Regions from separate parts of the Homo sapiens genome. Here regions 1 and 2 are each linked to region 3. Evidence: fine-mapped expression QTL. A gene starts in region 3. Each other region holds a variant in brackets. All regions are shown on one strand. Distances are between the middles of the regions.

Region 1 (4,237 bases), 48 kb after region 3:
CTGCACCCTGCTGACCCCCGGCCACTGCTCCCTAGCCCATGTCCTGCTGGGGCGCACCCCACATTCTACCACACAAATCTGTTCCAGCGCCAGACCACACTTCCTCTCTCTCCCCTTGGTGCCTCCCCTCCCCAGCCTAGACCCCTTCCTTTCCCTCCCGCCCTGACGCATCCTGCTTCCAGGCTGGGCGAGGGGAGTCCTGGTCTGTGTTTTCTCGATCGAGTTAGCTACTCAAAATCATATCTGTGTGTCTCCTGAGGGGGTCCGCAAGCCCCACAGGCAGAGGCACACCTGCGTCACAGTGGGGGCCCTGAGCTCAGCCCTAAGTGGCTCCTGAAATGCTCTCTCGAGGCCTGAATGAATCTCCTCCCCCGGCCACCCGGGGCAGTTGGGAGTGTGAGACCTCAGGCTTGGCCCGGCAGAGCTATATTTAGACACCAGGGCCAAGGCGAGCTTCTGAGGCTGAGGAGGTGGCGGGGCCCACAGTGGGGCCCCAGGGGAACCGCCTCATCGAGGGGACCGTCCCTAGGTGACAGGCCAGAGCCCATTCTGGCTGCTTTGGCTTCCACTGCCCCCAAAACGGCAGAGGAAGGATTCTGTTTGAACAAAGGAGGTTCTCTGGCTGGTTTGGTGTGTGTATTATAGCTGGAAAAAATAAGTTCTGGGCCGGCCGGTCAGCTCCAAGGGTGGCCCAGGGCTGGGGGGCCAGGGCGAAAGTGGGGGTTTCCTGGCCAGCCCCTGGGCTGGCTCCTGTCTGCTGCAGCAGCCTGCATGGCTGTCCTCCCCACTGTACCTCGGGCAGGCATCGTGCCAGGCCAGGGTGCGGCTGCCCGGCGGGTGAGGAGGGGCTGCCCTGGCCCCGCTGCTCGCTGCCCGGCTCTTGGGGCGGGCTGGAGGCAGGATGGATGTTCGCAATAATTACCCAGCTGCAGCTTCCCCAGAGCTGCCGCCATAGCAACGGTGCCGGGCGCCCCAGCCGGCCAAGTGGCAGGAGGGGGATGTGGGCACTGTGGGCAGGTCGGGGAGTGGGGTGGCACGAGCCCCAGGCACAGCCCCACTGGCTCCCTTTGTCAGCTCCCTCACTGGCCCACCCCTTCCCCGGAGGCCGGGGGAGGGGGGCTTTGTCTGGGCATAGGGAGGTTGGCACAGCCCAGGAGAGGCTCCGGCAGACGCCCCATTCCCACTGCCAGGGCCCATGTGGCAAGGGGAAGCAGGTGTCAGGAGGGCTGGGAGCGCTCAGGGTCCCCATGGCTCAGGGTTCAGTGGAGGGTGTGCTGTGCCCCACCTGGTGGCCCCCACACACCCCGGGTCCCCTGGTCTCATTGTGCACAGTGCTGTCTTCTTTCTCTAGAAGGGAGTGTGTGGGCACTGGGCACTCCCCAGGGAGGACTCCACTCACCCTGCCTTGCAGGGGTCCTCTTGGAGCAGGCCTTGGGCAGAACTGGCTTTGGGTGGGGCTTTACCTGTGGGGGAGGCCCTGGGGACCCCCATAATCCTGCCCTCATGGTACCCGTCCCCTCTCTCTGTACTTGGAAGCCCTGACAGTCCCTCCCTCCTGTGAACATTCAGTCTGATGAAGAGACTGTGGTTAGCTCCATTTTCCAGATGGGGAGACTGAGGCCAGAAAGGTCTAGGACTTGTTTGGGATCACAGAGCTCAAGTCTGTGGAGCCCCAACCCCGTCCAGTGTTGCCACCATGGTCATCTGGCAGCACAGCCTAGTGGTGACCGAAGAGTGCAGGGCCTGCAACCCAGGGGCCTGGCCAGCCTTGCCCAGCTTCAGTTTTCTCCTCTGTAAGATGGGGATGGAA[C/T]TGGAGCTCTCTGTATGGGGTTGTTGCGTGGATTCGAGGAAACTGCACGGAAGGCGAAACGCCTGGCACGTGGGCAGTGTTAGCTGCTGCTGTTGTTGTTGGAAATATTATTTTTTATTATTGTTGTTACAACACGTGGGGGCGGACCTCGATGCTCACCAAGGTCCCTTTTGGCTCTGGTCTCCTGGGGCGCTCCGGGTGGGCGCTAGTCACCACAGGCATGCTGGGAAGTGGGAAGCTCGCAGCCTACTGAGAAGGTGGGTGTTAATCCCCTGATCCCACAAGTGCGTCTGGGCGTGGGCTGGGTGAGAATGAGGTAGGAGACACAGGACTGAGGCGGAACCCGCGCTGTGGGGGTGAGACCCTGTTTATACAGAGTGATAGGGGCCTGTCCTGGGGGTCGTCCTGGAAAGGTCAGAAGAAGGGCGTTCTAGAAGGTGGTCTTGCTTGAGGAACCAAAGGGGAGCCAGAGTCCTGGAGCACAGGGAGGGACAGAAAGGGACAGGGAGACTGAGGGTGGAGCGGTCCACTGGGGAGGACTGGGTTCCTGGGGCTTCGAGGGCCACCCATGGAGGACAGGGTTGTTTTTGAGACAGTCTTCCTCTGTCACTTAGGCTGCAGTGCAGTGGCACGATCTCGGCTCACTGCAACCTCAACTTTCTGGGCTCAAGTGATCCTCCCGCCTCAGCCTCTCAGATAGCTGGGACTACAGGTGTGCGCCACCACACCTGGCTAATTTTTGTATTTTTTTTTGAAATGGGGTTTTGCCATGTTGCTCAGGCTGGTCTCGAACTCCCGGACTCAAGCGATCCTCCCACCTCGACCTCCCAAAATACTTGACTGCACCTGGCCGAGAGATTTTGGAGTGATTCTAGAAGCTGGGGAAAGCTAGCAAGGGGCTTTAAATAGAGTAGGTCAGTATGCATGTGTTGAATGAATGGGTGAATGAACAAATGATTGAATGAAAGCTTTATTCTGCCTTGGCCAACCACAGAGCCTCTCTCCCTCCACCTTTCCCTCCTTCCTGTCTCATACCCCTTCCCTCATCACCCCAGCCCTCCCTGGCTGGCTCAGTTTTGTCATTTATAGCCACTGCCCCTAGGAACCCACAGTCATATGGTGGAAGACTGACAAGTAAAGGGAAGAATTCTAGTGCAGCAATCTGGCCAATATGGAGGAGGGTTCTGAGAAAGGACAGCTGACACCAGGCCAGTCAGGGCATTGCCTGAGAGGGGTGTTGAAGGATTAATAGGAGTTCACTAGGCTGCCGAGGCAGAGGACGCAGCATCTGCATAGGCTCCGCAGAGTATGCTGTGGGAGATTTTTAGTCGTTTCATGGGGTAGTGACAAATAAGGATAGCTACATTTATTGAGCACCCACTGTATATCCTAGTCCAGTGCTACACACATGAGATTATTGGAATCGCACAATTGAAACCCTGCTCCCCTTGTGGCAGAGACCTATTTCACTTTCATGGATGAGAAATCAAGGTTCAGATAAGTTAAGTAACTTGCCCAAGGTCACACAGCAACTACAAAGCCTATGCTCTTAATGACCCAGGGGGTGGTAAGGGGTGGGTTGGAGAGACAGGCCAAGCTGGAACAGGAAGGATCCTGAAGGCCAGACTAGGGTGTCAAGACCTAATCCTGGGGCCACCAGAGGCCCATGGTAGGGTTTTGAGTAAGGGCAGGAGGTCTGGCCTGTGTTTGAGACAAAGACTCTGTGGCCTATTTGGAGGGTGTACAGGGTAGCTGAGACTAGCCTGGAGGCTACTGCAATAGTCCAGGCGAGGGCTGACCCCAAGGGGGACATGCTTGGTGAAGGGGAGGAAGGGATGTCTTTAGGGGAGACAGTGAGACAAATGCAAGACCAGGGGAGTGGGCTGAGGCCACTGGTTGAAGTGCAGATCAAGATCAGAGTTCGGGTCCGATAAGTCTAACAGGGAGTTCGGCTCCGATGAGTCTAATAGGGAGTTGATGCTCTTTCCTGCTTTCCAGCCAGTTACTATTTCCTTGATATGTAAAAGACCACATTTTCTGGTCGAGCATGGTGGCGGGTGCCTGTAATCCCAGGTACCCAGGAGGCTGAGGCAGGAGAATCGCTTGAACCCGGGAGGTGGGGGTGTAGTGAGCTAAGATCGTCCAAACTGCCCTCCAGCCTAGGGGAGAGAGGAAGACTCGGTCTCAAAAAAAAAAAAGACTTCACATTTTCTCCTTTGTAAAATTATAGGCATTTTTTAAAAGGTAAGTGGGAGAGGGAGGGTAGTTCTTAACCCACAGTAGAGGGAGGGTAGTTCTTAACCCACAGTGGCGACAATGGCGCTGGCTGCTGGTGGCTCTTGGGCCCAGTGGTGCCACTGGGGGTTTTCTCCAGAGTCTCCAAGGCCCCTAACAGGCCAAGGGCAGAAGGCCTTGCTCGTGGTGGCA
Region 2 (4,237 bases), 41 kb after region 3:
GAGTAGCTGGGATTACAGGCATGCACCACCATGCCCGGCTAATTTTTGTATTTTTGGTAGAGACAGAGTTTTGCCACATGGGCCAGGCTGGTCTCAAATTCCTGGCCTCAAGTGATCCGCCCACCTTGGCCTCCCAAAGTGTTGGGATTACATGTGTGAGAGACCGCGTCTGGCTGAAATTATTTTTAAAAAGGAACTACAACCCCCAGGTTAGTCCATCACCAGAGATAACCACTGTGAAGCATTTGACACATTTCTTCCTAATATCATTTCATATATATATATATATGCATATGTAGGTCTCCTAATAAAAAATAGTTTGCCTCTTGCTGTCTTTTACCTACAGTTACATCAGATGCATTGTCTGGTGCCTTTAAGTAGTCTCTGAAATCTGACTCCTCAGCCTTTTGGATGACTCCAGCCGGTGGTGGCCCTTTGACAAGTGTGGCCCCTTCTCGTGGCTGGGCACAGAGGCTGTTTCACTCGTTTTCTGTGATAAAAACACCGCAGTAAACATCCTCCGTCCTGCGTAACTTCATGTCCACATTGCTGATTGTTTTGTTGTGTTTTTTTCTGATAAATTTCTGGACATGAAATTCTCGGAAGCCCTGCTGGGCCCGGAGCTGGCTAGGTACTCGGGAGGGTGCTGGGCTTCCTAGAGCCACGCGTCCACACCTGAGGACAGCTTGGACCCAGCTGTAAGGAACAACGTGCACTTCTTGAATGTCTCACGCTGTCTTCCACCGCTTTGTCCATGATGTCACAGTACCTCTCGCCTCCCCTCCCAATGCCTGTCTTGCTAATTCTTTCTTATCTTTCCAGACTCCAGCATAACCTTCTCCAGGAAGCTTTTCCAGAGCCCCCAGGCTAGGAACCTCCCCCCAACCCCTGAACTCAAGCCCCAGCAGCCCGTGCCTGCGCCATCTCCATCAGAGCTGCATCTCTCTGGGTCTCTGGGTAACAAGTGCCATTTCTTTGTTGTTTTCTGTGTCCCCCAAGGACAAAGCTCAGGCTGGATTCATCTCGGAATTCCCAACACCGGGGTAGAACTGGCTCATTTCAATTTCAGTCAATGTTTGTTGAGGAAAGGAGTGAAGAGTTGGACACATGAATGAACGCATGAAACAGTCCGGAGTGGGGAAGCTGAAGCTCAGGCATCAGGATCCGGGAGAAGCATCCAGTCCAGGCGGACGGGGTGGAAGGTTCAGAGCAGGGGCCCCAAGTCAGGAGTAGGGAGGCAGACGGCAAGACCTCCTTCCATGAAAGGAGGCTGGGACCAGGGGACCAGGTAGTGCAACGCGGTGAGGGGGCTGTCAGGGCGACTGGCCGGAGGAGTCAGAGGCAGGAGGCACCACCAGGTTACAGACAAGGACCTTCTACAAGAGGGAAACGTGTCATGGGCTCTGGAGCCCCTGTCCAGGTTCAAATTGTGACCCTGTGCCAGGGACAGCTTCTTTGTGCCTCAGTTTTTCCCATAAAATGAGGATAATAATACTTCATTCATGCCTTTTTTTCCCCTCAACAAACATTTGTTGTATGTCTGCTGTGGGCCCAGGACAGGAGGCTGAGAAGGAGCTGACCACAGTGGTCACACAGCCAAGCCCTGCTGCTGAGATCTGACCCCAGTTCGCCTGTCACAAGTTCTATCTGTGCCTCGTTGTCTGCCTCCTGGGGCTGTTATGAGGGCTGAAGAAGGGGCAGGCACAGAGGAGACACTTACTATATGATCATTGTCCTCCTAGAGTATCATCACCATCAGGTGGACTTCAGTGGCCATCCCAGGCCTCCACGGATCAACCACAAGATCTTGGAGAATGTCCTTACCCTCCAAGCCTCAGTTTACCTTTAGGGTGACCAACCATCCTGGTTTGTCCAAAACTGAGGGTTTTCCTGGCACAGTCCCAGGCAAACTGGGATGGTGAGTCACTGATATAGTTTG[A/G]CTCTGTGTCCCCACCAAATCTCACCTTGAATTTTAATAATCCCTAGGTGTCAAGAGCAGGACCAAGTAGAGATAATTGAATAATGGTGGCAGTTTCCCCCATGCTGTTCTCATGATAGTGAGTGAGTTCTCACGAGATCTGATGGTTTTATAAGCAGCTTCCCCCTTTGCTCAGTATCACTCTCCCTCCTGCCGCCCTGTGAAGAGCTGCCTTCCACCATGATTGTAAGTTTCCTGAGGCCTCCCCAGCCACGCAGAACTGTGAGTCAATTAAACCTCTTTTCTTTATAAATTACCCCAGTCTCGGGCATTTCTTCACAGCAGCGTGAGAACAGACTAATCCCGTCACCCTGGTTTCCTCATCTCTAACACAGGGACCACCTGCCTCCCAGGGCTGTTGTGCAGAACAGAAATAAGCCTATGGAAAAGGCAGAAAACCATGGAGCCAGAATTCTAGATCTGGTTACATGAATACTAAAGACTTTTGCATGCCATGGAATTCTAGGCATGAAAAAGAACGAGGCGGTCCCGTGTACTGCTGTGGAAGAAGCTCTGAGATACATGTTTTTTTTGTGAAAAAGGCCAGATACAGCGCACTTTGTGGGGAGCGCTTCTGTTAGTACCAAGGAGGGGGCAGGAACACACGTGCATGTGCTCCAGTGCGCACATGGGTTCTCCCGGGCGGGGACTGGGGGCTGAGGAGAAAAGACTTGTTTTTCACTGTACATCCCTTTGCTTTGTTTGAATTATTTTACCCCTTTGTTTTCAGTAGCTGGCCGAAAAACTTCCCAAGCTTCCATGTGTCAAAAAGAACTCACTGAACGAGATTTAAAGGCCAAAGTTAGGGAGTAGGAAATGTGTCTAGCTCAGGGCCCAGCATCTAAGGAGTGCTCCATGAAAGGCCTTCTCCCCTCTCCCACTCCTGACCTTGCTGACTGCTGGGAGTGCAGGGGCACAGACGGGCTGTTGCCTCCCCCAGTGCGGTATTTGTGAGGCTCAAATGCAAGCCCAGGCTGGGGAGACTGCTCTGGGTTCCACGCGGCATCCTGCCTAAGCCCTGGGGGTCCTAGAGGTCACTGGCTCCCTTCTCTGCCTGCATGTCTCAGGTCGCCCTCTGGCCAATTCTGAAGTCCTGCCCTGCCTCAAGGAGCAGAGGTGGCAGAGGTGGGCCCACCGCACAGGGTAAATGTCCCGGTGTCACATACCTCCAGATTGCAGGGACCTGCGTATGCTACTGCTGCTGTGGAAACCAGCTCTCTCTGGCTCTGGCCTTGGGGAGAGGGAGCCACAGTGGATTTAGGAAGAGTCTCCAGATGTAGCTTGAGACTACCAAACAGGCCTGACCCCCACAGACCCTGCCTCTTATGAGCGCCCAGACTGAGCCCTGCTTCAGGCTCCCAGCCATGTGGCCAGCTGCTTTTCTTCTTTAATTTTTAGCATCAGACGAATATTTCAGGAAAATATTCTCATTGTAAAATCTCAAACATTAATAAAATGTAGTGAATAAAAGGCCATGTAATTCCTCTTTACCTCCTGAGCCCCATTCTGTTTAAACCATTGTTGTCAGCTGGTCAGTGTATATACCTATACCTATGCCATGCCTATACCAATACCTATACCAATATCTGTAACTATACCTATGCCACTACCTATGCCTGTGTCGTGCCTGTACCAACACCTATACCTAGACTATCTATATTTATATCTGTTTAGATGTGCATATTGTGTTTAGGTATGCGTCTCACGTGAGTAGTAACATTCTGTATGTTTTGTTCTGCAAGATGCTTTCTTTTTCTTTTTCTTTTTTTCTTTTTTTTTTTTTTTTTTTTTTTTTAGATAGAGACTCATTCTGTTGCCCAGGCTGGAGTGCAGTGGCTCAATCTTGGCTCACTGCAACCCCTGCCTCCCAGGTTCAAGCGATTCTCATGCCTCAGCCTCCCAAGTCGCTGGGATTACAGGTGCACACCACCACACCCAGCTAATTTTTGTATTTTTAGTAGAGGCGGGGTTTCACCATGTTGGCCAGGCTGGTCATGAACTCCTGAGCTCAAATGATCCTTCTGCCTTGGCCTCCCAAAGTGCTGGGATTACAGGTGTGAGCCACCGCACCCGGGCTATTTTTTTTTCCCCTCCCTCCCTTCCTCCCTTCCTTCCTCCCTTCCTTCCTTCCTTTCCTCTTTTCTTTTTTTCAAACAGGGTCTCACTCTGTTCCCCAGGCTGGAGTGCAGTGGTGTGATCTCGGCTCACTGCACCCTTGCTTTCCCAGGCCCAAGTAATCTTTTTACCACAGCCTCCAGG
Region 3 (4,237 bases):
AGGCTTCTTGAAGATTGACCCCCAACCTGAGTCTCCCCAGCGGAAGGGGAATTCGGCTGGTGGGGAAGGTGGGGGAATGGGCGTGGCGTATTCTAGGCTTAGGGATCCCAGGGCTGCGGGAGGACAGCCAAAGCTGGAGCGCCAGTCGTGCAGGCCAGAGCTGATGGGGCTTTGCCTACCATGCCAGGTGCTGCTTCTGGAGGGTGGGGCAGGGGGAAGGATTTGAAATGAGGTAGCAACAGCACAATCAGAATTGTGTTGTTCAAAGGCCTTCCTGTCACGGGGAGAGGATAGGCCACCACAGGTTCTTTCCTATCTCCCTCTTTCCCCTCCAGACCTTACCCCTTCTAAAATGGAGGCATTTTGTTTGTTTTCGCTCAGAACCCAGTTCCTCATGAACTGTCATTGTAAATAGACCGGAGGCCAGAACAAAGGAAGATTTTTTAAAATTATTTTTTCCTCCTTTAAAGACTAGCTTAATGAGAACTGCTGACATGGGGTAAAGTACAGCACGCCCAAGCTGAGAGAGGTGTGGGGGTACCCTAGACTGGGAAACTGAGGCCCAGGGAGAAGCACTGCTGGGCAAGGAGCATCCCTCTACATCCCAGGTGGGGTGGGCGCTCCACACACCAGTGTGATGGGAAAAGTGGAGGTGATGAGTGTCCTCACCTGGGCACAGCCTGGCCCTCATGAGATGGAACGTGCAGGGAGCCTTTTGGGGGAGGGTTCAGGAGGAGAACTGGGTGGTTTGCCCAGGAACTCAGAAGGAGTATTCCCTAGGCGGGTGGGTAGCGTGTGGAAGGACACCTGAGGCAGACAGAAGACACAGAGACCCAAGGGAGAAGGAAGAACGGCTGGGTTTAGAGACGTGGACGTAAGTGAAAGGGCAGAGCCAAGGATGCAGCAGGACAGGAGGGAGGGGGTTAATAACACACTTGAAGCCCACGGTCCAGGTTTGATTTCATTTAACTTAGTTTACTCTGGACCCCTGAGTCTCTCTCAAATTTGAATGGCCTTTTTTTCCTTTTGAAGGGGGATTCTTTAGGAGGAAGGGCAGAGAGGGCACCAAGCAAGTAGATACTGTCTCTAATAAAAGTTTTGGTCATGGCCAGGCGCAGTGGCTCACTCCTGTAATCCCAGAACTGGGAGGCCCGAGGCAGGAGGATTGCTTGAGCCCAGGAGTTCAAGACCAGCCTAGGCAAAATGGCAAGATCCCTATCTCTACAAAAAAAAAAATAATAATACAAAAATTAGCTAGGCATGGTGATGTGCACCTAGTCCCAGCTACCTAGGAAGCTGAGGTGGGAGGATTGCTTGAGTCTGGGAGGTCGACGCTGCAGTGAGCTGTGATTGCACCACTGCACTCCAGCCGTGGTGACAGAGTGAGACTCTGTCTAAAAAAAAAAAAAGGAAGTTTCGAGGGTGAGATGAAGTAAAAGACTGGAATGTTCTTGAGACATTGGGCTAGAGATTGTCATTTGTTTTTGCTACTTAAATCCAGGTGCTCTGGGCTAACCTGATTGGGCCCCTGATGCAAAAGCGCCTCCTGGTGGGTGGTTCTGAAAACACTGAATACTTTCCTCCCCCTGCCACCCAGTAACAATATTAATAATACAAATACAGCATTTTTTTTTCCCTGCAGAACAAAATTCCTAGAAGCTGAAGGGCTGAGTTGCTGAACATGAGCATTTTACTTTTAGGCAGATTACATCAAAGTCTCTTTCCAAAAAGTTGGCACCAATTGGCACCCCATTTTTGGTGCATTTAAATATTAAACACCAAGATGAGACTGGATGGATCCCTCTCCTGAAATGTCCTGTCCATAAATGAAAGAGCTGGGGCCAAGCTCACGGTGGCTCACGCCTGTAATCCCAGCACTTTGGGAGGCCAGGGTGGGAGGATTGCTTGAGCTCAGGAGTTCAAGACTAGCCTGGGAAATATAGGGAGACCCCTGTCTCTTAAACAAACTTAAAAAAAATGGCTGGATTAAACGACAACAACAGTTTCAGGGACCCAGTCTTTTCTGAACAGTGTCTCCCCCGCTCAGCTCTCACAGATCATTGAGGTGGGCGGGGTTAGACCCATTGACAGTTGGACCTGCAGGGCCAGGTCACATAGCCAGTGGGTCTGAGCTGACTTTTCTTCCCAAGCCTGTGTGATCCCCAAAACCCTTGGCTGCCCCCACTCTGCCCCCCGCCTCCCAGCCCTTCCAGCTGCAGCCTTTTCACTCATTCCACCACCACTCAGCTCTGAGTGGCTACGCTGGCGGGCTCTCTGCTTTGCGTCGGAGACATCACAGTGAGCAAAGGCAGATATGTTTTATGTGCCCTTGAAGAATCTCCCAGACAAACGTGTCATTGCAGTCGGAGCCAAATGGCCGGGGCAGGTGGCACAGATGAATGCCGGGCAGAGGAGCCTGCAGGTGGGTGGAATGCAGCCTGTCTGTGCTGAAAGTGTGGGGTGACCCTGGGGTTTTAAGCAGGGGATGGTGACCAAAAAAGCCAGCAGAAAGACCAGTGTGTGGTTTTGAAGCTGCTGCCCTAGACTCCCTGTGCCTCATGTGTCCCTTGGAGCTCCACCTGGGTCTCTGTGCCCACGGGGCTGCGGTGAGGCTCCCCGAATGTGGGGACCGTGTGGCCGTTGAGCCCATCTCCGGCAGCTATGGCTGAGGCGCCAGCCACTTCCGCCCTGTGCTCTCTCTGTGGTTGGCTACGGGGGCTGAGACACCTCCGGCCAGTCTTGAGGGGAGCAGGAGGAGGCTGCTGGACTGTCCCCCATGGCAGCCACAGGGCCTCTTCACTCCCTCCTGCCTCTGTGGCTCCAGGGGCCCAGCTCAGCCTCTTCCTGCCGTTTGTACCAGCCCTGGGGCTCCTCAGGAGGGCGGGCTTGTCGCTTGTTCCCCCAACCCTGCAACCCCTCCACTTCCTCTCCTCACCCGCCCCAGGGTGTGAGGTGGGACACAGAGAGATGCCCAGCCCTTACTACCAAGGAGTCTTGGGTCTTGAGGGGGCTTCTTTTATGGCCACTCATTTCAGCCCCTAGATCCTGCCAGTCCCATATTCTTCACTCCCTGAGGCCTTCTGGCTCTCAAAGCCCGAGTCTAGTGCCTTCCTACCAGCCATCTTCACCAGGCCCCTCTCCTATGCTGGGTCTGTTTAGATGCAGGGGCACAGGGAGTAGGAAAAGGTCTCTGCTGCCGGAGCCCACAGCCCTGTGGGAAGACAGCAGGGCCAGGTGGCAGTCAGGGAGAGAAGCACTTTTCTGGAACTGTGTGAAATGCTGTGAGCTTGGGGGAGGCAGGGGAGGGAGTGGGGAGGGTAGAGGAGGAAGAGTCCCAGAACAAAAAGGCCTGGTGTGGTGAGAAATTCAGGAGGGAATAAAAGGGAACAAGAGCAAGAAATAGAGACAGGCACACTGTGGTTCTTGGTTTTTCCCACAAAACTAAAGCTATTTAAATTGAAGAAGTATTTTTTTTTTTTTGGAGATATTGTCTTGCTCTGTCACCCAGACTGAAGTGTAATGATGCAATCATAGCTCATTGTAACCTTGACCTTCTAGGCTCAAGCAGTCCTCCTGCCTCAGCCTCTTGAGTAGCTAGGACTACAGGCATGCGCCACCACACCCAGCTAATACATATGTATGTATGTATGTATGTATAATATATATGTAATATATTTTATGTGTGTGTATTTATTTTATTTTATTTTATTTTTTTGAGACAGAGTCTTGCATTGTCACCTGGGCTGGTGTGCAGTGGTGGGATCTCGGCTCACTGCAACCTCCATCTCCTGGGTTCAAGCGATTCTCCTGCCTCAGCCTCCCAAGTAGCTAGGATTACAGCTAGCTACTGTAATAGCTACTGGGCGCCCACCACCATGCCCAGCTAATTTTTTGTATTATTAGTAGAGATGGGGTTTCACTGTGTTGGTCAGGCTGGTCTCGAACTCCTGACCTTGTGATCCGCCTGCCTTGGCCTCCCGGAGTGCTGGGATTACAGGCGTGAGCCACTGCCCCGGCTCCTCTTAAATTTTTAAGTGCACGCTACAGTATTGTTAACTATAACCACAATGTTGTGCAGAAGACCTCCGGACATTTTTATCTGTGTGACTGAAACTCTATACCCATTGAACAGCAACTCTCTGTTCCCCACTCCCCCTCAGCCCCTGGCAACCCAACCCCCATTCTACTATTTTTTTTTTTTTTTTTTTTTTTTGGAGACAGAGTTTCACTCTTGTTG

Alleles and levels. Alleles are on the strand shown, and positions count from the first base shown. SD is a standard deviation of normalised expression in the study named.
For the expression in testis of the gene that starts at base 2,113 in region 3, C is the low allele of the variant in region 1 and T is the other (small effect, 0.39 SD a copy in GTEx).
In carriers of allele G in region 2, the expression in ovary of the gene that starts at base 2,113 in region 3 tends to be higher than with A alone (moderate effect, 0.51 SD a copy in GTEx).

Evidence for each region.
Region 1: its variant is fine-mapped to the expression of C20orf203 in testis (GTEx, PIP above 0.99).
Region 2: its variant is fine-mapped to the expression of C20orf203 in ovary (GTEx, PIP 0.97).

The regions. Positions count from the first base shown.
Region 1 is chr20:32,624,006-32,628,242 of GRCh38, reverse strand. No RefSeq gene overlaps it. Among named protein-coding and RNA genes, the nearest start is that of NOL4L-DT, 39 kb to the right of the region's middle. RefSeq lists a silencer at 851-920. The variant C/T (reference allele first, on the strand shown) is at 1,811.
Region 2 is chr20:32,630,856-32,635,092 of GRCh38, reverse strand. C20orf203 (chromosome 20 open reading frame 203) reads left to right here. Exons shown (of 6, transcript NM_182584.4): 6 at 823-3,468. Among named protein-coding and RNA genes, the nearest start is that of C20orf203, 41 kb to the left of the region's middle. The variant A/G (reference allele first, on the strand shown) is at 1,940.
Region 3 is chr20:32,671,817-32,676,053 of GRCh38, reverse strand. C20orf203 (chromosome 20 open reading frame 203) reads left to right here and starts at 2,113. Exons shown (of 6, transcript NM_182584.4): 1 at 2,113-2,422. RefSeq lists enhancers at 1-494, 1,346-1,415, 3,366-3,865.